Regions from separate parts of the Homo sapiens genome. Here all the other regions are reported to be linked to region 2. The links are microRNA targets in miRTarBase. Many come from high-throughput screens and were not tested one by one. Region 2 holds a microRNA gene; each other region holds the end of a gene's coding sequence.
Evidence for each region. The annotated mature microRNA hsa-miR-3662 reads GAAAAUGAUGAGUAGUGACUGAUG and lies in region 2 at 2,263-2,286, opposite strand. An mRNA with a match to its seed (bases 2 to 7 or 8) in the 3' UTR can be bound and repressed. Matches are read on the target gene's strand: a 7mer-m8 pairs with bases 2 to 8, a 7mer-A1 pairs with bases 2 to 7 and ends in A, and an 8mer does both.

Region 1 (4,000 bases), not on the chromosome of region 2:
CGCATCATTTTATGTTAGAATTGGGGGTCAGAAGTTGTTTCCTAACAATCATTGTGCATTGTTTCAGGTCAGGGCCAAAACTGGAACCAAGGATTTAATAACTATTATGATCAAGGATATGGAAATTACAATAGTGCCTATGGTGGTGATCAAAACTATAGTGGCTATGGCGGATATGATTATACTGGGTATAACTATGGGAACTATGGATATGGACAGGGATATGCAGACTACAGTGGTAAGAATATTTAACTTAATTTTATAAAGCAGTGGTATTAAAATTCATTGTTAACATACAATCCTGTTCTGAAATTGTGTGTATGGGCTTTCCATTAAAGTGTTCGGAGTTAAGTGTTTGAGGCATGTTACAATCATAGGATGATTATACTAACATAGACTGGTGGTTATAAATGAACTAGGATGTATGATTTATGAGTAGCATCTAATGGGTGCTAAAATATCTTAATACTTTTTATTTAGCATGCAAAGATTTGTAGATTTAATAGTTTGTGTTTGTAAAGAAAGTTTTGTAGAAAACTATCTTAATGAGAATTCTGTGTTTTCAAAATAGGCCAACAGAGCACTTATGGCAAGGCATCTCGAGGGGGTGGCAATCACCAAAACAATTACCAGCCATACTAAAGGAGAACATTGGAGAAAACAGGTGTGTATAAGAGTACAGGAAAACAGTAGAAATGTCTAATTTAATTTAAAGATCAATAGACAAATGAAACGTAAAAACAAAATACTATGTAGCCTGTTTTTACTAAATTGTTGATTTTTTAATTGCTTTATGAGCCTGTTTTGCCTAAAGTGTCTATAGATCTTTAACTTTAAAGTCTTATCTCACTTTCTTTAGTATTGCAGAAAAACTTAAGAGTTTTTCTGTTTGCTTTTGTGTACCAGGTGGTCTAGAGGAATAATTAAACATTTTAGAACTATTAACAGGTAAAGTACTGAAATGGGTACAACTTAAGGAAAACAAGAATGTTGTCTTCTAACTCTGACATTATACCTTGTTTGTACCCGCCAGCGGGAACTTCATTGCAGGCCGTGTGTCACCCTGACCACGTCTATCTCTGGGGGTCGCACGTTGCGGGCAGAGCGCAAGGCATACACCAGAAAACGCTGTCCTGTGGTATGGTCTCTTCCAACTTCATGTACCAGCGTAAAGATTAAAGTGGAAAACTTCAGACTTTGGCTTCATTTTTAATCTTTTTGGAGATTAAGTGTCTAAACTTAACTTAAATGGTTTTTTACAGGAGTTAAAGTACATAAATGCCTTTTTACAGCTTAATCATTTTGGTCTTCTGTTTAGTGTTGTATTTCAATTGTGGAGCCTCATTTTAAGTGTTCATTCTTTTAAGATTTAATGCTTGCTTTTTCTTTTTATAGCTAATAGTGAAATCTACAAACCAAAACAAGAACTTTTAAATCTGGGATATAAATTAAAGATCATATGCACAGATCAATTTATGTTCTTGTAATAAACTTATTAGAAATTGGTGTTTGTGATAGCATTTTACTTGGGTTACTAGAGATGCTTCTAGTAGACCTTAATCTAGCATAGTTGAACCTCTGAATATGGGAAGGTTGTATTCCCAGATTCTTTCCTGAATAGATTTGAATTTAATGTCATTTGGGAACTCCAGGGTGAGTTTATTGACTACCCAAACTGTATTTTACCAATAAATATGCATATGATCTTTAATTATTGAAGAAAATAAAGTGAGGACTTAAAACAATTCATGAAAGTGGACCTTTAAAAGCTTGTCAGAGTTGCACAAATCTAACTGGTATTTTGTTTTTGTTTTTAGGAGGAGATGTTAAAGTAACCCATCTTGCAGGACGACATTGAAGATTGGTCTTCTGTTGATCTAAGATGATTATTTTGTAAAAGACTTTCTAGTGTACAAGACACCATTGTGTCCAACTGTATATAGCTGCCAATTAGTTTTCTTTGTTTTTACTTTGTCCTTTGCTATCTGTGTTATGACTCAATGTGGATTTGTTTATACACATTTTATTTGTATCATTTCATGTTAAACCTCAAATAAATGCTTCCTTATGTGATTGCTTTTCTGCGTCAGGTACTACATAGCTCTGTAAAAAATGTAATTTAAAATAAGCAATAATTAAGGCACAGTTGATTTTGTAGAGTATTGGTCCATACAGAGAAACTGTGGTCCTTTATAAATAGCCAGCCAGCGTCACCCTCTTCTCCAATTTGTAGGTGTATTTTATGCTCTTAAGGCTTCATCTTCTCCCTGTAACTGAGATTTCTACCACACCTTTGAACAATGTTCTTTCCCTTCTGGTTATCTGAAGACTGTCCTGAAAGGAAGACATAAGTGTTGTGATTAGTAGAAGCTTTCTAGTAGACCATATTTCTTCTGGATTGTAATAAAATTGTTAGTAGCTCCTTTTACTTTGTTCCTGTCTCTGGAAAGCCATTTTTGAATTGCTGATTACTTTGGCTTTAATCAGTGGTCACCTAGAAAAAGCTTTGTAATCATAACACAATGAGTAATTCTTGATAAAAGTTCAGATACAAAAGGAGCACTGTAAAACTGGTAGGAGCTATGGTTTAAGAGCATTGGAAGTAGTTACAACTCAAGGATTTTGGTAGAAAGGTATGAGTTTGGTCGAAAAATTAAAATAGTGGCAAAATAAGATTTAGTTGTGTTTTCTCAGAGCCGCCACAAGATTGAACAAAATGTTTTCTGTTTGGGCATCCTGAGGAAGTTGTATTAGCTGTTAATGCTCTGTGAGTTTAGAAAAAGTCTTGATAGTAAATCTAGTTTTTGACACAGTGCATGAACTAAGTAGTTAAATATTTACATATTCAGAAAGGAATAGTGGAAAAGGTATCTTGGTTATGACAAAGTCATTACAAATGTGACTAAGTCATTACAAATGTGACTGAGTCATTACAGTGGACCCTCTGGGTGCATTGAAAAGAATCCGTTTTATATCCAGGTTTCAGAGGACCTGGAATAATAAAAAGCTTTGGATTTTGCATTCAGTGTAGTTGGATTTTGGGACCTTGGCCTCAGTGTTATTTACTGGGATTGGCATACGTGTTCACAGGCAGAGTAGTTGATCTCACACAACGGGTGATCTCACAAAACTGGTAAGTTTCTTATGCTCATGAGCCCTCCCTTTTTTTTTTTAATTTGGTGCCTGCAACTTTCTTAACAATGATTCTACTTCCTGGGCTATCACATTATAATGCTCTTGGCCTCTTTTTTGCTGCTGTTTTGCTATTCTTAAACTTAGGCCAAGTACCAATGTTGGCTGTTAGAAGGGATTCTGTTCATTCAACATGCAACTTTAGGGAATGGAAGTAAGTTCATTTTTAAGTTGTGTTGTCAGTAGGTGCGGTGTCTAGGGTAGTGAATCCTGTAAGTTCAAATTTATGATTAGGTGACGAGTTGACATTGAGATTGTCCTTTTCCCTGATCAAAAAATGAATAAAGCCTTTTTAAACAAAATCCAAACTTTTAATCAAGTCTTGATATGTATGACTGAGAAAAAATACACTACATCTAGAGATGATTGAGATGTTTTGCAAAGAATTGAAGGGGGAGTGAGAATTGGTTTTTCTTGCAGGGGCTTTGAACTCTAGATTTGGGCTTTGAACTCTAGATTTAATTCAGATTTCAGGGTCTATCAGTTCACCAACTGATGCAAATTTGAACAGATACTCTAAGGCTAAGTGTCCTAGGTTGGATGAACTGAAGCTACTATCAAGATCTCGTTCCCAAGGATTAATTTAGAACAAAGTAATTGGACAAGTTTATTGGGGAGGGGATAGAAATGAATTCTAAAGTACCTATAACAAATACTCTGTGTATGTTTTTTACATCGTATTTGCCTTTTACATTGTTTAGACCAAATTCTGTGTGATGTTATCCTCGGGAAGAGGATAGAAATTAATTCTAAAGTACCTATAACAAATGCTCGGTTTGTATATGTTTTTATACATCGTATTTGCCTT
Region 2 (4,516 bases):
GTTTTTCTCCCATAGGGAGTAGACTGACAAAATATGGCCATATTTTTCTGAAACAAATTTGATCCTGGTATTTCTGAATCAATATATGCTGGCAGAATCTCCTAAAGCAACAGTGAAAAACTTGCAATTCATGCTTATTTTTAAGAAACTACAGTAGTCAGGGAGACAGTATTACTATTCAAAGTCACTTCTGACCTCTTCATCCCTCTACCTCTCCATTGGCAAATATTATTATTGCATGAGTAAAAATATGCAGTAACCAACCCCTCCTTTGCCTCATAGGACATACTGCTTTCTGTGAATGAGTTCCATTCGCTCACAACAATTAACTTGTTGTTACTTGATGATCAATACATGAATTCTGAATATTTAAGTATCTTCAACTATAGCAATTTTTTTAAAAGAAGCTTTTCTTTTCTAGTGTATGGAAGAAATGGAATATAATTATGTAAGTAAAGTACCTAAATAGTACCTTAAAATATAATTTTACATGATCAAATTAATATAGAAATAATTACAAAGAATTATAAAGTACAAGGTTATCTCAAATATAGGTGTATCAGTATAAATGACCCAAATAAATGTATTGCCAACCTCTAAACCACTATCACTAACTTTAAAAACTCTTACTTTTATTTCAAAGATGCATCAAATGGTAGAAACATCACTGAGAAACATTTATTGTCATGCAGAATCTGTACTATATGAGCTAATTAGAAAAAAAAGTCTAATGGGAAAAATGGTCATCTGTCACGTGACAAAAGCAAAGTACAAAAACTATAAGAGTACGGTCCCAAATATCTCAAAACAATTACACATAAAACAAAAAATCCAGACTATTCACAAGTAACAGCTTTTCAGGATAAGTAACATTATTGTATAAAATCTCCCTCTTCCCATAAAATGTATATGTTCAAATGATGCTGGCAAACCAACCTTACAACATGCAGGTTCTGAATGTGTTGCTTCAGCACAACTGAATGTCTAGGATCCCCAGACATTTACTGTATGTCTAGGATCCCCAGAATACACCCAATACATACCAACTGGGTGGATAATATGCTCACATAAAAACACACTGACATGTAAAGATATATATCTATGGATTATGCAAGTATATGGCATTTTTATTTTCCATATTTTTAAGTTTTCCAAAATTTTCTATGCAATCTATAACTTTTATTATCAGAAAAACTGCAAATCGACATATTAAAAATGGAAACCCAGAATGATTCAACCTAAAAAACTTAGAAGTAACTAAGAAAAACTTAGAAGTAAGTAAACTTTAGAACACAGTGAAAATGTGTCTATCATTTTTCCCTGGATAAATTTTATTATCATTACTTTGTATCCTATTTATTATTAAATATCTTCTCAATGCCTTTTAAAAAGTCCTCAGGCTCAAAGATCAAAATAAAAAACAAAATAAAAACGATTTTCTAATTATAAGTTTTTCTGGATTACAGTAATAAGATGTTAATTCAAAATAAATATAGTATCACCACTTGTAAAGAAAGTTACCACTTTTAGGATAAAGTTACTTTGAATTTATAAAAACAGGAATAATAAAACATTTTGGAACTTACAGGAAATCCTTTAGTGATAGGAATTTCAATATTAAAGATGAGGATTCGGGCTCTGAAACGAGTGCAAGCTTTAATGGGTACTTTGGGGCCACAAAATATGCAGCCAACACTGTAAGAACAACAAAAAAAGAGGAAAGGTAATTGGGGGACAAATTTACATCAAATAGAAAGACCTCAAAAACATTTACAAGGAAAGTAAAACAATTAAGTAAATTAGGGACTTTTTCTAAATATTCTCTTCTGAGCTAAAGCATGACTTTAAACCATTATTAACCTTATGTCATTTTTATACATTAGAGCTTTCACTCAAAGCACATGCCAAGTATGTGTGCTGACATGTATTAATTCAAATTTTAAGTAAGTTTGCTTACATTTACACAGGTGTCTATTTTTGGTCAAATGAAATTCAAAATTGAACTAGCAGGTTGCAAAATATATGTGTTTAGAGGTGAGGTCCTATATGAAGACAACGGTTGCTTAAACTCATTTTCTCACTCACTTGATTTTGATGATATCCATCCCAACCAAAGTAAGACTAACATGATCGCCTGCTGCCGCCCAGTCGACAGGTTCATCATGCAGAGTGATTCCTGGAAATGAGTAAGAACCAAAGCATACAGTGAAACACCTCGATATCAAACCATAACAACCAACAGAGTTTGGCTGATTTGTGCTTCATCAGTCACTACTCATCATTTTCAATATGAATGGATTGAGAGTAAGAAGTGTAACTGTGAGCGTTGAGGAAAACACACTTCCTCTAGAACTGACTCTTCTAGAATACCACCCTAAACATAAAGTGACTTGTATTTGCCCATAAAAGGCTGACTTCTGCTTATTTAATCAAGATTTTTAAACTAATTGACACAATTGGTATATTCATTAAACAGGCCCCATTCAAATATTTCTATCATATTAATGGATACAGACAAAATAAAACACAGTTCAAATTATTCATAATGACATAAAAGATGGGCTGGAGAAGATGTCTAGCAGTATTTTCTTCTCGAGTTTTGCTTTTAATTAGACAACCACCTAAACAAATAATCCTTGTTTTCCAAGTAACCCATGGGACATGTACACTCAGTCAGAATTTCAAGCGGTCCTCTCAGCAGGCCCCTTAACTACTCCTGGCTCAAAAGAACTTCTTTCCAGAGAGAGATCTGCATACTAATGACTAGTTATATGAAAAGAAAAATATTAAGGAAATAGTGATAAGAAAATTTAATTTTAAAATGATCCTAGGTGTTGCTATATATCTAGAGATATACATCTATTTACCTAGACATAGTCCTGAAGGTAGTCGGAGAGAGCAGTTCCCAAGGGCAATACTCAGCTACCTTACTCAAAGGCTTTTAAAATATATCCCATATTTTCTGATTTTATGGAATACATTTATGGATTAAGTTCCTTTCCATAGAAATGTAGGCCTTTTGACAAAGAGAATGTGTAGGCCAACCACTGTGGATAGTTCTTGATTGACACATTGACATGTTCTTAGTAAATTATAATCCACCCATATCTTTCTGAAAATACTCATTTTCTATGCAGCAGGGAGAGTTTCTGACTTTTAGGGAGCTCAAGGATTTAACTTTAAGAGCTCTGAGACAATCTAGAGTTTCATGCAAAATATCATGTATGTGCACATCTGCATTAATCTGAGAAAAGAAGGCATAACTTTCTTCAGGTATCAGAGATTCTTCCTCCCAAACATGTTAGCAATTATCGTATTAAGGAATGTTTGTTAAATATCAACTTACTAGATTTAATTTTAAAATGTAAATTTAGAATGAACATATCTGAATTTTGCTATGAAATATGGGATTAAAAACAGAAGCTAGGTATTTACACACAATAGAGATTGACTTTGGCTTAAACATTTGTAGATGTTTTATACTACAAGTTCAATTAACAGTATAAAATTTTCCAAAGGTAATTATATTCTCTGGTTCTTCTTCCCCTCAATCATGTTACACTGTTCCACATATGACATTTATCAAAAAACTTTTCTCATTGGACAAACATTACAAAAAGAGGCTCTTTTTTAATACTCTATGAGCTTGATATGTTAATAAAGTAAAAAAAAAAAAGTAATTTAGAATTTCTATTTGTTGGTAGTAGATTCAGTCAAGTCTTTCTTTTGGGACAGTACTGGTTAAAGAGCCACAGTAGTACCTAAAAATGTTTAGACAGAACAGTGCTTTCAAGAATCAAGTAAACCAAGCAAAAGCAGTAAGGTTAGAATGGAGGAAGGAGAACCTCTCTGTTGAGTTAAAAGACTGGCTCTCAAGAAGTAGGGTGGTTCTTCCCTGGGGCTTCTGATAAGACTTACACTGATAAAAGATAATACTTTAGAGTTTCTCTGTGTGGAAAGTACAGAGAAGAGGAGGGTAAAGAATGTGAGACTTTCAGAGATGACTAAGGATTTTAGAGGTTACAAGGGAGCCAACCTCAAGGTCTGTGATAACTTTAGGATCATGGTTTTAATTTATGGCTCTTAATCATAAAAAAATTCTTGTTCTCAAAAAAGATCATTAACATACCAAAAAAATCGTGTTTCAAAAGTATTATAGCTCTTGTCACTTTAAAAAACAAAAGCAGAGACCTGTACTTGCACACAATGAACAGATCTATAGAAAATGACACTATTTTTAAAGTGCATATTACTTTTTATCAAAACTGAAATTTCATGATCTCTAGTGGGCACAAATAAAAAGGTCAAATGGAAATAACTGATTTTCATTCCCTTATTCATCTTTAAATATAGGTTAAACCATGTAACTTCAATAGATATTAATTTCTTAAACTTTTCAAGAAATCTTCTTTTAAAGAGAGCATATGAATTCAAGAAAAATATACATTCAAATTGATAAACTAGTCAGGTACAACTCTAGATATAAACTATAAATTAAGAGTAACAGAGGGAAAAA
Region 3 (4,516 bases), not on the chromosome of region 2:
CTCCATCTCAGGTGTCTGAAAGTCATGGACAATTGTCTTACCAGGCTGATCTTGAATCTGAGACCCCTGGGCAGCTTCTGCATGCTGATTATGAAGAGTCACTAAGTGGCAAGAATATGTTCCCCCAGCCATCTTTTGGACCCAATCCATTCTTAGGCCCAGTTCCTATTGCACCTCCTTTCTTTCCTCATGTTTGGTATGGGTACCCTTTTCAGGGATTCATAGAAAATCCAGTAATGAGGCAGAATATTGTCCTGCCCTCTGATGAAAAAGGAGAATTGGATCTGTCTCTGGAAAATCTGGATCTGTCTAAAGATTGTGGTTCAGTTTCAACAGTAGATGAGTTTCCAGAAGCCAGGGGTGAACATGTACATTCTCTCCCTGAAGCAAGTGTGAGCAGTAAGCCGGACGAAGGCCGGACAGAGCAATCTTCCCAGACACGAAAGGCAGATACGGCATTGGCTTCCATCCCTCCTGTAGCAGAGGGAAAGGCTCATCCTCCCACTCAGATTCTAAACAGAGAGAGAGAAACTGTGCCTGTTGAACTTGAACCTAAAAGGACCATTCAAAGCCTGAAAGAAAAAACAGAAAAAGTAAAAGATCCTAAGACTGCTGCTGATGTGGTCAGCCCTGGGGCCAACTCTGTTGATAGCAGAGTGCAAAGACCAAAAGAAGAGAGTTCAGAAGATGAAAATGAAGTGTCTAATATTTTGAGAAGTGGTAGATCCAAGCAGTTCTATAATCAAACTTATGGAAGCAGGAAGTACAAAAGTGATTGGGGCTATTCTGGTAGGGGTGGATATCAACATGTGAGAAGTGAGGAGTCCTGGAAAGGACAGCCAAGCAGAAGTCGGGATGAAGGTTATCAGTACCATCGAAATGTCAGAGGGCGACCATTTAGGGGAGATAGGAGGAGATCAGGGATGGGAGATGGCCATAGGGGACAGCACACTTGATGGTTGTTGCCGAAGTATTTTCTAACAGAAACTCTTAGGTGGAATGTTTCTGAAGGCTTTAAAAAAAATACAATAAAGTAAAAACCGCAGTTGGAACTCTTTCCTCTCCCCAGCCCCCCTTACCTTCACTCCCATACTGGACAAGACATTTTGGACATGAGTTCAAGGGGGCAGGTTAATTCCTGGCATTGCCAGTTTTCTTCATTCAGAATCTGTTTGTTGATCAAGTGACTGTCCCCGTAAAAAGTAGAAGATAAGTTTGTTAAAGTATTTTTTATAAACAGCTTAATATAAAACATTATAGATTTAGTGTTTGGCTTTTTTCCTTATAAGTTTATAAGTTTGATTTCAGATGTTGGAAATGTGTGCTTTATAGTGTTTACTAAAGTGACAAGAAAATATACCATTTGACACACTATAGATTCCAAACATAACGTTGCACCAAATAGAAATGTATATTTTATTATGCAATGCCTTAGTCATAAACTGGGCTCAAACAATTCTCAGCCTAAAACACTGTTGTCTTTTAAAATGCTTCCAACCCAAAGGCCTTTCATCTCAATATCTGTCAAACTTGAATAATGTCTTCTCTTTAATATTCACATAAGGCAGCCTATTAACTGTGTCTTAGCAATGTTGTATATAGTTCTTTTAATATTCATAAGGTATATTTTTGAATTTTGGTATTTGTTGAGATTGCATAGAAGAATAGTAGGAAATCCAATGAAATGGCTGTTTCCACCAAGAATTCTTAGCACTGGTGTAAATATCATGGTGCCTACTCGAAAGAAATGTAGATGCTATGCATTTTGAAAATAATCTGCATCAGTTAGAACTGCAGAAGTTTTTTTAATGCCACTTTAACACTAATGCACTGACAGATTCTAAATATTTTGTGAGAAGAAATGTTAAAAATTTTTAGCTTGACAGGTTTCTAGAGTTGTTTTCTTCCTCCCCCCCCCCCCCGCACCATTGGTTGTGTATCACTTTCACTTTACACTTGCATGTTCTACTTGTCAGGGCTGGAACTATTGTATAGAAGATAATATGATTGTGACTTCTAGTTCTTTTCTAGAGGATGCTGCTAGAAAATGGTTTTGCTTTGTATTTTATAGCTTGTTACCCTTAGGTAGGTAACATCTTACATTCTGTTTTCTTCCAGTCTTTGCAGTATTCACTAGAGGTTCCCTTTGCATGTTGCACTCTGTTCTCATTTGGAGATTGAACTCTGAATTAACACAGTATTCATTCATCTGTGTTATTTTGTAAAAATAACTGTAGCTTATATTCTTTATTTGTGCATACCAATGTGAAAATCCACTCTTTTATTATGTTGAGATTATCTTCTGATCAGGAAGTTTGAGTGCTATGCAAATAACATAGTAGTAATTTCTCTTTGCATGCCATGTGTAATATACCTAGCCAAAACCAGATGCGGTGACTTTCTTTTTTTGTAAAGCAAATTACTTAAGAAAATACAATTCACTTGAATTTGACAAACTGAAACAGATGGGTTTTCTGGGTTCTCTGATAACCTATGGGAATGTTTGGATGCCAGTTGGGCTAGTGAATCGCCACTGTACTGTAATAATGGTTATTTACCTCTGTGCTGTTTTAATTACCTAACGTCTGTGTAACTGCTGATTTGAGTAGTGATTAGCATTTAGATAATGTAACAGGATTTTAGAGAGCACTTTGAAAGATAACATTTTATTATGATGGTGCTAGGTAAAAAATTGTAAAGACTGGGATGGTTGTGTGGAAAACTTTTCTTGAGAGAACCTATTGAAAGGAATTTGTTGTCACCTTCTTAACTAGAATAGTTGTTGAAGGTACCGCTTAAGCCATTTTTTTCTTAACATCGGTGGCTCAGTTAAGGAATGAGAAGATAGAGGGTCCTCCACTTTCAGCTCATGCTTTTTTATGTAGGACTAGCTTACCTGATTTTAATGAAAATCACATTTTGATACAAACACCAGATTTGAAAGTTCAATGTGTTTGATCTCAGGAGTCCAAAATAAGTTGTTGCTTCTAGTGTCCTGCATTTTATTGACTGGGGTTTGATCTCAGCTTCTGAAAATGTTTAAAAATTGGAAGGAAATACTACTCATATCTTCATTGTCACTTTGTCTTACCTCAATTGAGTAACAGAATATAGCTCCTGAAGGAAACACTGATTTGCTTTCTGTTTCCCATATCTCACCTCTAGGATATGATGGAAGAAGTGCTTGAAAGAGAATTTTAGCAGATGGTACTTTTCTCAGTGACCTCTGGAATAAAAGAACTGACTTTTGATAGTTTTAAAATTAATCTTTGCATGAAGGTTGGTTTCGCTTTTTTTCCTTTAAGTTTGTTTTTAAATGTATTAGTCCAGGGGATTTTGCCTTATGCTGAGGTCAAACTAAGGATAAGCAAGCTTTTGTCCTTCATTTTAACTGTTATGTCATACTGTTATGTTGACATATTTCTTTATAAGAGAATAGAGGCAAAAGTATAGAACTGAGGATCATTTGTATTTTTGAGTTGGAAATTATGAAACTTCACCATATTATGATCATACATATTTTGAAGAACAGACTGACCAAAGCTCACCTGTTTTTTGTGTTAGGTGCTTTGGCTGAACTTGATTCCAGCCCCCTTTTCCCTTTGGTGTTGTGTATGTCTCTTCATTTCCTCTCAAATCTTCAACTCTTGCCCCATGTCTCCTTGGCAGCAGGATGCTGGCATCTGTGTAGTCCTCATACTGTTTACTGATAACCCACAAATTCATTTTCATGGCAGACCTAAGCTCAGACCCTGCCTTGTCCTGGCAAGCATAGGTTTTCCCAGACCACAATGCTGATATATCTTATTTAATGCAGACTGTATTCTTGCAGCGTGTTGTTTCCTTTGTGACTCAAGGTTGAATTAAAATGCCTGTGAACTGCAAACTTGCTTATGATTGACTTGGTGCAATAAAGTTCCTTTCTAACCATTTCTGGTTTAGAAAACATTCAGCCATCCTAGAAACTAGCAATATTTATTTTTGCCTCTTTCGTTTTACCTTCATTTTTAGATGAGGTAAATGTTTTGTCTTTTACTTAAGGGTACTAAGCAAGGTCCACTCTAGTGTAGCTGAAGAGAATGCATATTTGGCTACACTATTTCTGTTTACTGTATTTTGCTTCCTACTTTATGTCTAAATGCTATTGTTTGTTTAAAATCCTAATAATGTCTCATTTCCAATATGTTATTTTCAGATAACTAAGGTTTTGCTACTAATGTCAGCCATTTACTCTCCCACTAATTGGGATTATTTTTTAAAAGAGGTCTTTCTCCCCGAAATACAAGTTTTAGAAAATCTTAGAAGAGGGGTGGGTGCATGTCTTAATGCTGGGAAGCGGCAACTTTGGGGTTGAACTTACTTGAATGGATTAAAAATTGCATTGTGTTACAGAGCTAGAAAATTTTATGTATGAAAAACGATAATAGCCTTACACTGAGTACAAATAATACTTTAAGAGCATGTGAAGATGTGATCATTTGTGATGTTACTTGTAAAAAAAAGTATATATACATAT
Region 4 (4,454 bases), not on the chromosome of region 2:
GCGCTGCCGCGCAGAGAAAAGCAAGGTTGCAGGCTGGACGCGGTGGCTCACACCTGCAATCCCAGCACTTTGGGAGGCCAAGGTGGGAGGACTGCTTGAGCCCAAGAGTTCGAGACCAGCCTGGGCAGCATAGTGAGACTTGTTCCTATTGGAAAAACAAAACAAGTTGTGAAATGAGGGAGACCTTATTTCCTCATGACAGGCCTGAGCCCCCTGATCCAGTCAGGACAGAAGAACCTACCTTGAGATTCATTTTTATTTTTTGAGACACAGTCCGCTGTCACCTAGGCTGGAGTGCAGTGGTGCAATCTTGGCTCACTGCAACCTCCACCTCCTGGATTCAAGCAATTCTCCTACCTCAGCCTCCCGAGTAGCTGGGACTACAGGCTTGTGCCACCATACCTGGCTAATTTTTTTTTTTTTAGACGGAGTCTTGCTCTGTCACCCAGGCTGGAGTGCAGCGGCACGATCTTGGCTCACTGCAAGCTCCGCCTCCCAGGTTCACGCCATTCTCCTGCCTCAACCTCCCGAGTAGCTGGGACTACAGGTGCCCGCCACCACGCCCGGCTAATTTTTTTTTGTATTTTTAGTAGAGACAAGGTTTCACCGTGTTAGCCAGAACGGTCTCAATCTCCTGACCTCATGATCCGCCCACCTCAGCCTCCCAAAGTGCTGGGATTACAGGCATGAGCCACCGGCTGGGATTACATGCATGAGCCACTACGCCCGGCCTAATTTTTCTGTGTTTTTAGTAGAGAAGGGGTTTCACCATGTTGGGCAGGCTGGTATCGAACACCTCACCTTAAGTGATCCACCAGCCTCGGCCTCCCAAAGTGCTGGGATTACAGGTGTTAAGCCTCATCCCCATCCCACCTCCCACCAAAAAGACACGGGCAGCCAAAGGCAGCGTGGGCGGTCGTTGGTATACATCATACATTTATTAGTGAATATCCCTCTGAAATCAGCAACAATATTAAAAAAAATAATGATTGCACTACTTGGTCAAGCAGAACTAGCAACTTTCATTTTAAAAAAAGTACAAATCTGTTAAAAATTTCAATCAGTATACACATATATATAATACAACATACTAGTTATGTTAAATGCTACAAACCAATGTGAATCCCATGGAATGGAAAAAACCACACATTTAAGCTTTAAGAACCATTTTTTTCTCTATATATTAGCATTTTCTCAAATACATACATGGGAAAAATGAGGTAACTGTAAAATGTGCAAGGAACAGGGCCCCCAAAATTACATATATTTCTACATATATATGTAATTTTATATATATATAAAACCTTTCTAACACAGAACACAGGCGCTGGGCCCAGCCAGGGCTGGGGGAAGGTGCCCACTGTCATGCCTAGGCCAGAAGTTGGTAAATAAGAGAGTAAACAATGGCAAGCCCCCACCACAGGAAATCATTGGTAACATGGCATCTATAGCAAGGTCGGCAGATCACAAACATCCTAAGTAATTGTTGTATAAATCTTGTTTTTTAATGATGATCTTTTTAAATGCTGTGTTTCCCCCCCAATAGCTGCTTGTTGGAATCACTGCTGCAGCCGACACACAATCTGTGAGCCTGTTTCCGCCTGCCCCAGGAACTGTAAGGGGTTTGAAAACGTTTTGTTGGGGTCGGGAAGGGAGGGGTTGGAGAGGGTGGTTCTGTGTAAAACACGTGGGTTTTCAACACTGCTATAAATATAGAAACGTCACCTGGAGTTATATACAGTAAGACTTTGGGTTCTCCATGGGGGTGGGACCAGGCTGACGGGCCCCACGGCAGGCTGGGGCGGGAGGTGGGAGCCAGGGCCACTGCGAGGAGAACGAGGGTGGTTGGAGCATCCCTGAGGCAGCAGGCGCCAGGGGCTGCCTGCTAGGATGTGCCGGCCCCACACGCAGTTCGTTCAGGGCAGCAACCCCAGCTGGGTATAGGACAAGAAAGGATTGGGACCAGGGAAAGTGGGTGGGAAGCTCAGCCAGACCCTACAGCGGCCTCCTCCAGAACTTGGAGGACAGGGATCAGGCTGGGAAGGCCCCCTGGAGATGGGGGTCCACAGCCTTCCTGGTCCCCATCCTCCTGGGACTTCCTTGGAGGAGATTCGCCCAGGCAGGTGGGAGTTGGGCCCTGGCTGGAGGGAGAAATGCCCTGAAAAGCGTCGGGTCCCGGTAGGCTCTAGGGACGTGTGCAGTACAGTGCATGGCAGTTATCAGCTGAGCACAGACCCCCAACCCTGCCCCACGACCGCCGGCCGCCCAGCCCAGCCCGGCACACGCATGCATGCAGGCCGGCCAGCATGACCGTGCTCGGCCCCCTGGGCACTCGGTCCCAGTTGGTCCCTATACCCGCCCCTATTAAACCAAAAGAAAAAAGAAATTGTCTTAAATATCCACATCCCCAAATCCTACACGTGATTTTGGGCCAAATGAATGAACAAAAACTGCTGCTCCTCACGTTCATGCAAAACAACAGAGGGAGAGGAGATTGGGCACGGGTCTGGCTGCATCCCTGGGAGGGACAACCACCGGGAACACAGGGCTCCCTCTCCCCGTATGGCCCAAGCCCCTCAGGATACGTGTGCCCCAGCTCGGGATTAGGCTGGGACGCCCTCCAGCCTGAGGGTGGGGCTGGAATGTTGTTCCTGGGATGAGGGTCCCCTAGGGAACCAGACTCAGCCCTCACAGCAGCCAACACAGAGCCAGCTGCCTGAGTTCACTGTTCGGGGTCAAGGAGGGGGGATTCAGCCCTGGGGCTCAGGAAATGGCTCGTGACACCGTCTGTCTACGCACCTGGCAGTGCCACCTGGGCAGAGGGCACGCCATTTCAGAGCATGAGACCTTCTGACCCAGGATGGTGCTCTGTCTGCCCATCCTGGGGCCAAGGATCTCCACCGGCCCCACTGAGGGAGCGGACCCCTGGCACTCAGTGCCAGCAGGAAAAGGAGGGACCTGAGGGTGCACAGGAGGGAGACCCGATCAGGGACACTCAGGCAGCTCCGTGGCGGGCGGGCAGGCAGGCAGACTAGGGAGGGAGTCTTTGGAGCTTGGCAAATGCAGGGGCTTATTGCAGGGACTCCTCGCTGGGCTGACCCTGGCACCAGCTCTGGAAATGCAGGCAGGAGCGAAGGGGCAGGCCTGGGCCACTCCCTCCCCATCCTCCCTGGGCCCCACCCACAAGTTTCCAGAGCTTCAGGCAGGGTTCTCCCGGGCAGGCGGCTGCGTGGCCTCACTCAGCCTCCCTGGGCACCTCGGAGGCGTCGGCCCGGCAGATGGGACACGTCCGGTTGGCCTGTGGGAACATGCACGTCAGGCGTTGCTCTCACCAGCCCCAACCCACCACATCTGTGCAGCCACCTGGGGGGACTTGGTCCGCTGGAGCCAGAACTTCCGAGATGATGACAAGGACAAGGAGGGAAACAGCCCAGGCCAGCCCATCCCCCCGTCACTGCATGAGGAATACCCAGGAGCAGACCTGGGCAGTGTTACCTTCAACCACTTGTCAACACACTTGGTGTGGAACTCATGGTTGCAGGGGAGGACTCGGAGCAGCTGCCGCGCCTCGAAGTCACTGAAGCAGACCACACACCTGTGGAGGGGCGCGGAGCGTCACCTCCACGCTGAGGGCCATGGGAAGGCTCAGTGGAGTGTGACTCCCCTGAGAGGGGCGTCCCACGGCAGCCAGCTGTGTTCAGAGGGGTGGGAGGTGGGGCAGGGTACTCACAGCGTCTGCTCCGACTGATGGCTGTCCGGGTTAAAGCGGTACGACGGGAGCTGCTCTATGTCTGCTTTGGTGAGACCCCGGGGCTTGGCATCTCCCAGCCGCTCGGCCAGGTTCAGGAGGGCCTGCATGCGGGCAGGAGACGGGGTCAGCGGCGCCCAGGGCTGCAGGTCTCCCAAACCCCACCTCCCAGCATGGGGCTCCATGGGACCTCATAGTTCTCCATCTCCACATCATCCACGTCCAGGTCCAGGCTGATGGTGGGCCCCATTGCTGTTGGTGACATTGGCAGCATCGAGCTAGAGAGAGACAAGTGTGGGGGCCCAGGGTCAAGGTCAGGAGTGGGGCACACAGAGCCGCTCTCCTGACTCCCTCCTTGCAAACAGAGCCCAGAACGTTGCAGCGGGGAAGGGAGCCCAGCTGGCGTGCCTGTCAGGTTAAGGGGGGAACGCCAGGTGGCTTCAGAGGCCCTGGGGCCCCTGGAGCTGTGTTTAGGTCTAACCACTGGAGGTTCCAGGAGAACAGGGCATCAGGGACCTGGGGCGGATGTGCGGATACTTACAGGAAGTAGGGCAGGAAGCTGGGGTAGTAGGGTGGTGGGGGTGGGGGTGGGGGCGGCGGGGGCAGTGGCTGCTGCAGGCGGTATCTCTGGGTGCTCAGTCTCCGTGGCATCATGTGAGAATATGGCTGCAAGAGGGGCCAGGTGCAGGTCAGCCCAGCAGGCCTG
Region 5 (4,516 bases), not on the chromosome of region 2:
TTCTGGTTATTTCATTTGGGTTCTTATATATATATTTTTTTGCATGCCTCTCACCTGTTTCCTCAATTGTCTCTAAGCATTTTAAAGGCTGAATCTTATTAATTTCACAGTCATTTTTGCTGTTTAATATACTCATTCATTTCACAAATATTTGTTGAGTACCCACAATGCTCAGCTATTATGGGGGTAAAAAGTTGGACAAGGCAATGTATCCTTTCCCCAAAACTCATAGGTTCTACTTCCATACAGTAAAGTATGTAGGGTAGAAGATTAAATAATGTTATAATGCAGTTACTTTTCCTGAATGAGAAACCTTTTTTAATCACTCCAAAGTAGCCATAACTTCACTTCAAACTCCAGTGAAATTATTTTTTTTTCTCTCTCTCCACAGGATAGTGGCCAAAGCCTCCAAGAACCTCATGTCCACGCAAAGCTTGGGGATTGTATTTGGACCTACCCTTCTGCGAGCTGAAAATGAAACAGGAAACATGGCGATCCACATGGTCTACCAGAACCAGATAGCTGAGCTCATGCTGAGTGAGTACAGTAAGATCTTCGGCTCAGAGGAAGACTGACAGACAAGACAAGCTACTGAATACGTTCACATCTGTCTTGATGCCTAATATTTTTACATTTCTGTAAACATATTTCTGAAATATTTTTTGCCTTTCAAGCGACAGATGCCTCATTTTGTGAAAACTTAATGATGATTTTGTGTTTAAGTTCCAAACATTTGAATAAAATAATTGACAATATTTGCCTCTATGTGTTCTACATTAACCCCTTTGGTGCTATGCCTTCTAGCACTTCTAGGAGCACATCATGCATGCCTCATGCTATTAAATAATATGCAAAGACTAGCACATATTCAAAAAATGGCCTTAATGCTGCTCCAGGGAATTGGGTGTGTGGTTGTGTATGTGGAGATGTGAGTGAGTGTGGTTGGGAGTAGGGGTGCATGTGCACACATGTGCTTTCCCAAGATCCAGGCTGCCTTAAACATGACTCCATACTGTTACTTGGACACGGATAGAACACAAAGAGGTAGGAAGGCAGAAGCTATTAATTTGTAAATTGAACGAAGGAGATCAGGTTCACAACCAAAACATATATATTTCATCTTTCCAGAACATTTTTGTATATATAAATATAGTCCAGCTATTTTCAATGCTATACAGTGAAATTTATAAATATAACATGTTGAATGGCAATTTTTCTCAAGAAAAATGACAGTTCAAAGCATTTGCCATTGAATTTTTTATAAATACAAATGTAGTCCCATAAACACACTATCTTATAAATTAGAAGCAAAATTAGTGCCCTGCAATTTTGATCTTTATATTACACAGGAATTGCATGACTGCTCATTTTTAATGCTAACATCCATTTTGAATCTTCATCAAACTGTATATCTTCCTTTTCCCTGGCTATGTCATTTTATGTAGAATTTTTATTATACTTCTGAGGATGCTTTATTGGTGAATTACATTAAATCCATCTAGAAAGAACTTTTTTAAAGCCTTTTTTTTCATATGCCCTAAGGATTACTTGACTAGACTTAGATTGCTTTATCCATTTGATAGTTTCAGTTGTCATGGATAAACAAAAGGGTAACTGTCTAGAATATATCAAACATTGTTTTATTTTGAAAAGTATGTTCTAGTTGAACACATCTCATACTGGTTTTATGAAAGTATTCTGCTGATAAAAATGTAGACTTACGTTTGACAGCTTTTTAATCAAATTCAAACAGAATAAATAAAACTAATCCAGTGTGATAAAGAGTAAGTATAGTTATCGATTTGTTCATAAAATGAAAAATAAAACATGTAAATAAAACGGGTGAAGCACAGATCCAGAGCAAACACTTAGGGCAATAATGAGCTCCACGGCATAGGCTGTCTGTTTAGATGGGGTATTCAGGAGACGGGGAGAGTCTGCTCAAGAGATAGCCAGATGTGCAGGCAGCTCCAACATCCATGGAGCTGCCTGAGGAAGCAGAGGACTCCCTTGTCCCTTTTGAATGTCTTCATTTTAGCAATGGCGCCAGTAAGTGGGCTTGTAGCCAAGAACAGAGAAGCCACCACAATAAGTGCTGAAGTGCAGTTTCATCCAGTGGGATGTATACACATACAAAAAGCTGAAAAAAAGTCGCATGAAGCAGAACTCCATGATCTGAAGTCACCAGTAACAGTGGGCTGGCAGACTTGCTAGCTTTAAGTGATTCTTATAAGTAAAATTGTAATTATGCCTTTCAGAAAAACATGGAGACATGAAACAAGAGTTTCTGGCATTCTATTTCAAGTCGTTCTCATTTCCATGCCATTCCGTATTCTCAATTAGGTCTTTCCCAAGACTTTGATTACTTCCCTTTTTGAAGCGTTGGGGGAGAGTAGATTTAGTGGTTCTAGCATTAAAATCTTATCCCTTCACACGTATCCATCTTTAAAGTTATTCTGGAAGCATCAGCCAGAGAGAACCAGCACTGAAAGCCAAAGAGAAGTGGCACTACCTGCTTTGGGCAGGGACTCACAGCCCCTTGTCTCTGTTGCTTTCCAGATTTATAATCTTCAAAAGCACCAGCTTCTTGATTTCCAATCTGATGGGATTTAGCCTGATTCAAACCCCAGCTGTGTCCTGTCCCTGCCTGCTAAGGGCATTTAATCAGAGAATGTGTTTCCTCTCTGGGAAAAGGCCATTCCAACGTGCTGAGCCAAAGTGCCCATCACAGGATCTGACCTAACACACTAAAGGCATAAAAAGGGTTACACCAAAAAGTTATTATTAGATTCCGTAACATCTCAAATACAGTGATGACGGCCATATCAAGTCTTCCATGTTTAGAAGCTGAGATTATAAGTATACTAGGTTGACTAAAAGGTTAGATTTCATATAACTGGTCAATATTCTCCAGCAAGAAGTCATGAAACACCAGTGAGCATTTCCTTATCTCCTAGTTTGAACCAGGCAAAATTCTAGGCACTGGTGACACAAATATTAAATAAGACAAATATTTCTACCCTCTGTAGTTTCAGCCCAGTGAGGGAGACTATCCCTAACAATTAATTACAGTTCAATACAAGATCAGGTGCCTTAGCCATCTTGGTAAGCGTGTAGACCCAGGATTCGGCACCTATACTTAAAGATGCTCAAAATGTATTGTTGAATGAATGGGCAAACAGAACAGAAGCTATTCCAGACATATTAACAATGCTCAGTGGCTGACAAATACCAAAAGACTCAGTTACAGGCAGTAACTGTCCTCTGACTCTGTTACAGAGTTAGATGTGGCTTCATTGGGAAGGTAACCTTTTCTATCTAATCTTGACCAATGAACAAGATTTACCAAAGAAAAATGCAGAAAACACACCAGGAAACAGGAATGGCACGAACAGAGTCATGAAAGACCTGACATTCTCCAAAGAAAAGTGAGAAGTTCAGTGAATAAAGGGTGAAGTGCATGCCTAGCAATTTTGGAATATAAAGCTAGAGAAAGATGTTGGGATCAGATATCAGCCATGATAACATATTCAGATTTTATCCTGTAGGCAAAAGGGATCCCATAGAGGCTGTAAAGCCAGAAAGCTATAGAGAAACTTTGTTTCTTAGAGAATCTCTAAATTCACCAATGGGCAGGAAAAAAATTAATTTGAGGAGACCAGCATTTTCTCATGTATGTGTTTGTGTGTGAAATAAAATTATAATCTTATATTCTTAGGGTCAGTTCTAGTTATGATGATGAAACATTTTAAGAAATTGTAACTTAGTCTGTAGAATGGAAACACAAGTCCCTAGAAAATCAAGCTAGTTATTATGTCCCATTTCAGCACGCCTTTACCTACCCAGGATATCAGAGGTTTCCCCTCTTTCTTATTGACACAGAAAGCTGCTTGGAGATGGTATATATTTCATCTTATATGTTGACAGTCTGACTTTCTTAGCATGTGCCATATGACAGGATCACCATGCCACAACTAGTAATTGAAAGCCATATGATGGTTCTCCCTATCCAATTAGAAAACAAACGATCCAATTAAGAAAAATTTTAAAAGCTGTTAAAAGGAAGCAATCACTTGCCAATAGTGCTGTCCTTACAGTTTAACACAGCTAGAAATTGACCTGTACTTCTCTTTTCCACATTTATTTTTGTGAATTATAAGTTAATCACCCTGTCAATTCCTAATTAAAAGGCCCTGCAAAGATTTTCATCCAAAAAGGACTGTTGCTAAGGGTTCTGGGTCAAATTGCTCTGTTGTCAAAAATGAGGAATAAAACCAAAACAACATCAACTCTCTCCCAGGAAACTTACATCTTAATACCAAAAAATGAGGACTTTCTGGAAATATAATAATCACATTTTATATTTTCAACCCTGTTTGATCTTATCTTTAGAACACAGATGTCTCCTTTTTTCTCTTTCTTTAAAACAAGGGTTGCAAATTCAGATGCCTAGTGGGGCCGGGCAGTGATAGAAACGAGTCAAGAGGAGCAGGCAGCAGGCGTATGAAGCAGCAGC
Region 6 (4,516 bases), not on the chromosome of region 2:
GATGGGGTTTGGACAGGCTGGGCTCAAACTCCTGACCTCAGGTGATCCACCTGCCTCAGCCTCCCAAAGTGCTGCGATTACAGGTGTGAGCCACCACGCCCAACATTGTATATACTTCTTAAGAAAATATCTATGACTGAGAAAAAATGACATATTAAATATTGTGACATGTGAAGTTTTCAAAAAATATACATATATATACTGGCCGGCCACAGTGATGTGGTGGCACGCGCCTGTGATCCCAACTACTCTGGAGGCTGAGGCACGAGAATCACTTGAACTCAGGATGTAGAGGTTTCAGTGACCTGAGATCGTACCACTGCACTCCAGCCTAGGCAAAAGATGGAGACTTTGTCTCAAAAACAACAACAACAACAACAAATATACATATATATATAACAACAACACAGTATGTGTGTGTGTGTGTGTCTGACACACATATACTGTGTTCCCAGAGGTTTTGGAAGTTAGAAACTAGGATGTATTTTCTACAGATTTAAACTATTCCCATTTATGAAACACTAATAACAAAATATCCTCAAGAGCTTATATTTTAGTGTTTCATCTAGTTACAAATAACAGTTGTGGTTTTTTTTTGAGAGGGAGTCTGGCTCTGTCACCCAGGCTGGAGTGCAGTGGCGCTATCTCAGCTCACTGAAAGCTCCGCCTCCCAGGTTCACGCCATTCTCCTGCATCAGCCTCCTGAGTAGCTGGGACTACAGGCACCCGCTACCCATGACCAGCTAATTTTTTGTATTTTTAGTAGAGATGGGGTTTCACCATGTTAACGAGGATGGTCTCGATCTCCTGACCTCATGATCTGCCCACCTCAGCCTCCCAAAGTGCTGGGATTACAGGCGTGAACAAGTAACAGTTTTTAAAACAAAAGTAGTTTTCTCTAAGTCAACTGTTATGGTTCAAATGCTGAAGTGTGCTAGCAGCTAAAATAAAGTCACCAGAGTAAGAAAAACGTTTCAAATGATCAGTTTATCACAACTGTTATGGTTCAAATGCTGAAGTGTGCTAGCAGCTAAAAGAAAGTCACCAGAGTAAGAAAAACGTTTCAAACGATCAGTTTATCACAACTGTTATGGTTCAAATGCTGAAGTGTGCTAGCAGCTAAAAGAAAGTCACCAGAGTAAGAAAAATGTTTCAAATTATCAGTTTATCACTTGCATGTTAACAACAATAAAAATAAGGACTTGCTAACAAAAGAATTTTAGTTTTTATGTATTTGGACAGCTACCACTGAAATGTTCATTTTGACATATAAGATGCAGCAGGATATGGAAGACACCAAAACAAAGCACAAAAAGTCAAAATGTTCAAAGTCATTTTCTTCCTTACTTTCTTCATTACTTATCACATTTTTCGATAACTAATGGCAGTAGCTTAATAAGCTCCTATATTAACAATTCAGGTTTATGTCACAAATACTTTTATTAAATAAATTTCAAAGTAACAAAGCTTTGCCTACATTAAAAAAATCAGTAGCAATTATAAAACAAGTCAACAGGTAGTCGTGCATCTAAATCTGATGTAGTATTCAAAAATAGAGAAATCCACCTGTGCTTTACTTGTATCTGGGGGAACGTCAAGAGGACTCCATGACATACAGTTCTCCCCATCTTACACTTCTTCAGTCCCTTGGCACAGACCCGGGGTATTCCAGTGGCAAAGTAGTACATCCATTACAGGCTACTTACTTAAAGGAAGACAGGCTACTTGCTCTTTTCCCCAGTAAGATGGCAGACATAGGTCACTGACTCCTTCACTCTCCCCTGACCTTCTATAACCTCGGTTTAATCATAAGGTATGCTCTTTAAATCCATCGTCCATCTGCACACATACTATGTTGAAGCCTGTTAACATTGACAACTACTACAGTGTAACATTTACTAATATGAAGAAAAGGGCAAGTAGTCATAACTGAATGAATATAAATGTCAAATTATGCAAATGTCAATTTGAGTGAGATCACTATTGTTGAATTCCAAGATGTTTAATGTAAACTGTTTTTATAAAAACTAATTATGAAACACAAAGACAATAGAAATATAAGTTATTTATTAATCAATCCACTTACAAAGCAGGTGGCTTAATGCAAGCTTATTGACATCTTCACATATGATCCATGGGAACATGTCCTCCACATACAGACAGTGATATTACTGACTGGATGCATTTGCAATCTGGGGCATATTAAGCATATTTAAACAAATAAAATTAGGCTATCCTGTATATGAAAGTATCTTGATAATAATATGCATCCTGAAGTAGATTAAAACTTCCTCCAAAGGAGAAATGTTAGTATGTTAACTTAACTTTATATTCTATATTATGCAGTAAATCTTAACTATAGAAATTAAAAATTTTAAATCAGTGATCGACTCTTGGTAATGTATGAAGTGGGAGTATATAACCATAGCAACAGTAGGTTGACAGTATAATTTGTGCCTCACAGTATCTGCAGATTTACTGTTTTCAAGTTTAGAGAGAAATAAAACAAGAGACATGTAGATTCAGCTGACTTTATTTACCTTTAAACTAATAAAAATCCCTTAAAAGTGATCCTGGGACCTTTATAAGTTCTATGAATGCACAGATACCTGCCAGTGACTTAAATTCCAAATCTTGACTTAATGTGTCTACAAAATCAATGTAAGCAGATATCTTAACTTTTCGTGCTTAGCAGAAGACAACAAATTCTACATGTCTTTTTCAATTTCCCTAAAATTTTGTTAAATCTGCAAGTATGTACAATCTAGCTAATTGAAATTAATATTTAGTGTTCATCAGAGCTGTTTCACAGCAGCAAAAACTGAATCAGGGAAATAAAATTCTAAATGATGTAGGAAAAAGATAAATGCAATCAGAACAGCAGTCTAAATGTATGATATCAATATTCAACTCTTATCTGCACTGTGTTGAAAGGAAAAGGATACACCAAGAAAATTTATACTGATCACTCTGGTGATGTGACTACCACCTGCATCTGATTTATATGGGTTGTATTCTGTTCCCAGTATTAAGGATGGTATTTAACTCAGAACTCCATATAGTAAATATACAGCAGCCATTTTGTCCTAATTAAGGAATGTCTTAATACACAATATTATCATTTTCTAGAGGATCTTTATACATTAAACTAAAGTACATGATTGATTAAATTAAAGGTTAGTAATGGATAAAAAATTCATAATTATCAAGGCTTGGTACTATGTAAAAAACAAAAAGACCACAAAATTCTACTTACTAAAGCAGCTAACCTTGCCTGCAAGTTTAGGGTCACAAGCCCATAATATGTGCAAAGAAATGCAATACAAGGAACCATGCAAAAATACAGTAAAATGATACAGAAAAATGTCAAATCTAGAAAAAAAAGCTTTTATAAATACATCAAAATCAACTGTATACATAAACTGTAGGTCTAGCATTAGTTGTACCATATAGCAGAGCCAGCACTCTAAGTTCAATGCTTCCAAATCTGCGCAGGTAAGTCATGCCATCTTTGGTTGACTGCAGTACCAGGAAGGATGGGAATGAGAGGGAGGGCAAGAGTTCTGAAACATGGTGTCAACTTTCACTTGGCAGCTGGGCCTCAATGTCCACTCTGCATATGGGGCACTTCTTATTGGTAATCAACCATTGGTCAACACACACTTGGTGGAAAAGGTGCATACATGGAAGACGTCTATTATTGGCAAGAAAACAAAAAGCAAAAATTAATTTTATGATAATTGTACGTAGTTAACAAATTATATATGTAATAATTCAATAATGTTTTGAAGGTACTAAGCATCTTCCTCTTCTATAAAAAACACATCGATTAAATTAGCACTCTGGGCAATATAATATATAAATGATCAAGATAATTAACTTTCAAAGCTACAGGACCAAATTATATAAAATCTTAAAAACTGTAAGAACACAAATTACACTGCCAATTATTCCAGTTTTGTTTTGGTACAGGAGCTGCCAATGCCCTGGAGTTAGCAGTATGTTACCTGTCACATAATATTGCAAATATATTTTTAAAAATCAAATCATCACTGTATTTGTAATGCCCTTTAAAAATACATATTATCTCAAATATATATTTATTACATCATTTAATTCTCTCTCAAAAACATTACAATTCATGTGGCAAATATATAGTAACTACACTTTCCTCACTAAAAAATGTCTTATTGTGCAATGTTATTTTCTATCAAGAATATCTTTACACATTAAACTTAAGTACATAACTGATTAAAGGTGAGTAATACTTTTTTCACGGAATAATTGTTATATACACTTAATATTGTGCTACTGTTTAACAGGTAAGTTAAAAGGAGATGTAATGATTTGTTTGTTTACATCATGCCAAATTACCAATTAGAAATTGAGAAATAAAGCCCCCAAGCAAGATAGGGTAACATTAAATCTGAGTGTTAACAGTGGAATAAAAGTTACTGACTCGTGTCCATTTCTACTTCTAGCAACTGTTAAGAGTTTTTATACACTTTTCAGACTT
Region 7 (4,460 bases), not on the chromosome of region 2:
TCTGTGGGGAAAACTGGCCCCATCTGACTCGGGTGACCCCCATGGGTGGGGGATGCCTTGCCCAGGCCAGGGCCACCCTGCCGCTCTGCAGAGGGTCTGTGGCCTCAGCTTCCTTCCCAGTCAGCCCGCTCTGCCCCCAGGAGGTTCCCGAGGCTAAGGGGAAACCCGTGAAGGCTGCGCCTGTGAGGTCTTCAACTTGGGGAACAGTCAAGGACTCACTGAAAGCCCTCTCCTCTTGTGTCTGTGGGCAGGCCGATTAGCTGGAAGGGCCGGGCTCTGATGCCCAGAGGCTGCAATTCCCAGGGCCTGGCCCTGCTTCCCCAGCTAAGCAGGAGTCTTTTGTGCTTGAGCCAAGGAAACATCATTAGATCCGCTAAGGGGCATCTGAAACATCCGTCGAGTGGCAGAGGCAGGATAAGTCACCTGCACATGAAGAGACTCATTCATTCATACAGCAAATATTACTGGTACATCTTCCACATGCCAGGCCCTGCAAAGTGCTGGGGAGATACCATGGTTTTCCTGGAGCTGGTATTTTTGGGGTGGAGGGAACCCACCCTGAATAAATAAAGTAACCCAATAAATAAAGAAGATGATTTTGAACAGCGATGAATGCTCTGCAGGAACTGAAACAGGATGCTAGAGGGAGAGTGATTGGGGTGAAGACCTTTCCTGATGCAGTGCTTGGTAAGGGCCTCTCTGCGCAGGCAACAAAGTGTGATCTAAAAGATGAGAAGGGGCCAGCCCTGAGAAAATCCACCCTCCCCAGGGCCACCTGCTGTCATCTTACCCCAGGGCAGGCCAGAGCAGTGGTCAGAATGCCCCAGCATGACGGGGAGGGGCAACGGGTTTCTTGCTGCCATCTTGGCTCAGAGGCGAGTGTGTAGGTCACTGCAAAGGCAGGGGATACCACGTGGGGAGACTCGAGGGCCATGCCAGTTGGGGCTGGGAGGCTCAGGGAAGTTGGCTCCAGGAGACTCCATCCCATAAGGCAGCCCAGGTGGGACCTGGGGATCTGAGATGGGAAATAAGGGGATCTGGCTTCTCAAAAGGGAGGGAGGTACTCAAAAATAGAGTATCATGTTTGAACGAATGAAAACAAGACATGTTATTTATTGAGCATCTACTGCATACCAGGCTCATGCTGCCCTCTAGGGATAGCAAAAAAAAAAAAAAAAGGTGGGGGGAGGAGGTTCACCCCTCAGGGCAATCGTGTTCCCTGAGCAGGAGGTGGAGTTACTGGTGTGGGTGTGAAGGTGTCTGTGAGTCTAAGGCATGCACAGCACTGTGAGAAACCCTAAAGCAACCTATTTAAGGAAGTCAGTCTCAAAGCTCCCAGATAAAAATCACTGGGTTTTTCTGTATTTATTTTAGAGACAGAGTCTCACTCTATCACCCAGGCTGGAGTGCAGTGGAACAATCACAGCTCACTGCAGCCTCAAACTCCTGGGCTCAAGTGATCCTCCTGCCTCAGCCTCCCGAGTAGCTGAGACTATAGGTGCACCACTACGCCCAGCTTGACTTCTTTTAGTAGAGAAGAGGTCTCACTGTGCTGCCCAGGCTGGTCTTGAACTCCTGGCCTCAAGCTATCCTCCCGCTTCAGCTTCCCTAAGTGCTTGGATTATAGGTGTGAGCCACCGTATCTGGTCATTAATTTATTCAATGACTATTTTACTAGGTTCCTACAAATACTAGCTGCTAACATTTAACATGTAATTGACCATTTACTCTGTGTCAGAGAAACAACATGGGCACTGTATTTGTGACCATTTTATAGATTAGAGAGCTGAGGCACAGAGAGGTTGAAGAATGGACTCAAAGTTCCATAGACTGGTACCATTGAGATTAGAACTCAGGCAAGTCTGGTGCCCATATTCTTGCTTGTAACTGTAAGGTATATACCCTCTCATCCTGGTAGCGTCTCTTCTAGGCAGAGGGGACACACAGAGGATAAATGTAACCCTGTCCTCAAGGAGCTCACAGCCAGGTGGGGGAGGCCAGAAAGAAAGCACACAATTGCCATAGCTTCTGAGAAGTGCAACAGTAAGGGCAACACAGAATGATGCTGGAGGACAACCAGCCCACTCTAGAGAGAGGAGATCAGGGAGGACTTCCTGCAGGAAGTGATGCCGAAAATGAGATCTGACCGGTGACTAAGCTATACAAAAGGGTGGGGTGGGGGAGCAAGTGGGGAGTGCTCTGGGCAGAAGGACCAGTCGTTCAGTCTGGCTAGGGTAATTGTCATTCATTCATTTATTCACCAAGTATTTATTGGGCATCCACTGAATGCCAGGCTTTGGGCTAAACCATGAGATGGAGCAATGAATAAGACAATGAGGCCCAGCCACAAAATAGTTTATCCTCTAGTTGGGGGAGACAGGCAATGCACACACACAAAACAAACAGATCAGAAAGGTGGCAGGAGGCCAGGCGCGGTGGCTCATGCCTGTAATCCCAGCACTTTGGGAGGCCAAGGAGGGGGAGGCGGGGGGAGATCACCTGAGGTCAGGAGTTCGAGACCAGCCTGGCCAACTTGGCGAAAACCCGTCTCTACTAAAAATATAAAAATTAGCTGGGCGTGGTGGTGGGCACCTATAATCCCAGCTACTTGGGAAGCTGAGGTGAGAGAATTGCTTGAACCTAGAAGGCAGAGGTTGCAGTGAGCCGAGATCTCGCCACTGCACTCCGGCCTGGGTGACAGAGCAAGAGCAAGACTGTCTCAAAAAAAAACCAAAAAAGTAAAAAGAAAAGAAAAGTGGCAGAAGCTGCATCAGGTGAGGCCTGGCAGGCTGCAACAAGACCTTTAGATCTTAGATCTTATTCCCAGATGGCAGCACTGGAAATTGTGAGCAGACAGCGTCATGGCCAGACGTACCTTTGGAAAGGATCCCTCCGGGCCTTCTGACTGCAGGGAGGAGGCACCGGAGGCTGAGTCTTAATCCTGAGAAAGGAGAGCAATGGTTTGGACTAGAGAGGAGGACGCAGTACAATCTGGTCGACATATGCCCATTCTACTCTCCTGAAGGCCCCAAGGACAAGGCTGCAGAGGGAGTTTGAGACCCTCAAGGAGAAAGGAGACCTGTGGCTGCACATCCGGCTTTTCACCAGCAGGTGTCGCCCTCTCATCAGACTAGAGGACACTGGGTCCAGGCCTGGACAGGGAAGGTGTGGACCTGCTGGGTCTGGGACTAAAGCCTTGGGGCCAGCCAACCAGTGGGTCTGTTTTTCAGAAGCCAGACTCATTCTAACCAATACTCCTTTCATCCAGAATAATGAATGTTTACTTTATGCCAGGCACCCAGCAAAGTGACATTTCAGAATTGAACCCTGGGGGGTCTTGGTGAGGATTCAGAGGAACCAGGCACTTATACCACTTATACTTGCTCCGTAAAGGGAGCTGTCATCATTACTATTGATGTCGTCAGTTACTATAGCTGTCGTCATTACGGGGCAATTGAATATACACCCCACACCCCATCAGTTCACCTGACCCCAGTCATGTGAGGTCGGCATGATTTCTCTTGCCATTTTACAGAGGAAACTGAGGCACAGAAAGGTCGAATACTTTGCCCAAGGTCACTAACTGGAAACCGGTAGAGCCCAAATCCAAACCTCAGGCAATGTGACTGCGCACTGCGCTTGCAGCCCCATACTGTGCTGTGAACACACTGGTCACAGCGGTTCAATAAGTGAGTGAAGAATGATCCAGCCTGGCACCCGGCAGCATGTGGGGAGTGTCCGGAGACTGAATGGGTGGTAGGGCCCTCGCTGAGATGGAGCACACAGGCGGAGTAGCCAGTGGGGACATGGGGAGATGACAGGTTCAGGAGGCGGATGTCGTGTGAGGGACTGTGGGACATGCCGGAGGGGATGTGGGCAGGTGGTGACCCATTCCCCATTGGAGCTCTGGTCAGAGGTTGAGGCTGGCAATGGGGCTGCATTGGTATATAGGTTGGTGATGAAGTTGCTCTGGGAAGGTGAGGTGTGAGACCAGGTCATCAGGCCTGTGAGAAACCAACTTACCTGTCCAAACCCAAAGAATGGGCTCAGAGGCACATAGAACAGTGGAAGAGAGACTTTTAATGATGGTCTTACGAGATCGGGTGTCTGGTGGGCAGGCACACCCAGCACAGTTACAACAAGCAATTTATCCCCTAGTGCGCAGGTCCCTCCCCTGGTTCCTCATAGGCTGAGTACTGTAGGATCACAATCTTCCTGGATGTCGCCTATTGGTTGTTGGGTAGGAGCTTTTAGGTGTTTTCTTTAGGATTTTCTTGTTGCATTTTGTTGCAGCCCACAATACATTGCAATCATAGCCAGCTTAGGGTTTTCTTAAGTATCTGACTTATGACCTAGGTAGTCAGGCAAGCTGATAAGAATAGACAAAGCGAGCTATTTTGCAGGCTAGTGAACTTTCATTCTAGACTCAACTTTTTTGGTTTGGGTGAGGGCAACTAAGC

Region 1: miRTarBase lists HNRNPDL as a target of hsa-miR-3662. Seed matches in the 3' UTR shown: 7mer-A1 at 2,020-2,026 and 7mer-m8 at 3,353-3,359.
Region 3: the mRNA of OTUD4 is a reported target of hsa-miR-3662. Seed matches in the 3' UTR shown: 7mer-A1 at 2,663-2,669, 7mer-A1 at 2,999-3,005, 8mer at 3,383-3,390, 7mer-m8 at 3,723-3,729 and 7mer-m8 at 4,002-4,008.
Region 4: the mRNA of RNF44 is a reported target of hsa-miR-3662. Seed matches in the 3' UTR shown: 7mer-A1 at 1,228-1,234 and 7mer-m8 at 1,213-1,219.
Region 5: miRTarBase lists ARHGAP15 as a target of hsa-miR-3662. Seed matches in the 3' UTR shown: 7mer-m8 at 686-692.
Region 6: miRTarBase lists RNF111 as a target of hsa-miR-3662. Seed matches in the 3' UTR shown: 8mer at 3,347-3,354.
Region 7: miRTarBase lists SRARP as a target of hsa-miR-3662. Seed matches in the 3' UTR shown: 7mer-A1 at 1,768-1,774.

The regions. Positions count from the first base shown.
Region 1 is chr4:82,422,701-82,426,700 of GRCh38, reverse strand. HNRNPDL (heterogeneous nuclear ribonucleoprotein D like) reads left to right here. Exons shown (of 8, transcript NM_031372.4): 6 at 68-238; 7 at 572-664; 8 at 1,818-4,000. The coding sequence ends at 642. Among named protein-coding and RNA genes, the nearest start is that of HNRNPDL, 5.8 kb to the left of the region's middle.
Region 2 is chr6:134,977,093-134,981,608 of GRCh38, forward strand. It overlaps MIR3662 (microRNA 3662), which reads right to left and starts at 2,340; the gene lies at 2,246-2,340. It overlaps HBS1L (HBS1 like translational GTPase), which reads right to left. Exons shown (of 18, transcript NM_006620.4): 14 at 2,086-2,176; 15 at 1,587-1,695.
Region 3 is chr4:145,133,870-145,138,385 of GRCh38, reverse strand. It overlaps OTUD4 (OTU deubiquitinase 4), which reads left to right. Exons shown (of 21, transcript NM_001366057.1): 21 at 1-4,516. The coding sequence ends at 956. Among named protein-coding and RNA genes, the nearest start is that of ABCE1, 38 kb to the right of the region's middle.
Region 4 is chr5:176,525,793-176,530,246 of GRCh38, forward strand. RNF44 (ring finger protein 44) reads right to left here. Exons shown (of 11, transcript NM_014901.5): 7 at 4,290-4,414; 8 at 3,939-4,026; 9 at 3,731-3,852; 10 at 3,496-3,595; 11 at 920-3,298. The coding sequence ends at 3,236. Among named protein-coding and RNA genes, the nearest start is that of RNF44, 9.4 kb to the right of the region's middle.
Region 5 is chr2:143,767,598-143,772,113 of GRCh38, forward strand. It overlaps ARHGAP15 (Rho GTPase activating protein 15), which reads left to right. Exons shown (of 14, transcript NM_018460.4): 14 at 392-755. The coding sequence ends at 575. The region is part of intron 2 of ARHGAP15-AS1 (ARHGAP15 antisense RNA 1); the gene reads right to left. Among named protein-coding and RNA genes, the nearest start is that of ARHGAP15-AS1, 6.2 kb to the right of the region's middle.
Region 6 is chr15:59,093,961-59,098,476 of GRCh38, reverse strand. It overlaps RNF111 (ring finger protein 111), which reads right to left. Exons shown (of 14, transcript NM_017610.8): 14 at 1,058-3,694. The coding sequence ends at 3,577. Among named protein-coding and RNA genes, the nearest start is that of CCNB2, 8.9 kb to the left of the region's middle.
Region 7 is chr1:16,006,087-16,010,546 of GRCh38, forward strand. It overlaps SRARP (steroid receptor associated and regulated protein), which reads left to right. Exons shown (of 2, transcript NM_178840.4): 2 at 1-2,721. The coding sequence ends at 260. Among named protein-coding and RNA genes, the nearest start is that of SRARP, 4.1 kb to the left of the region's middle.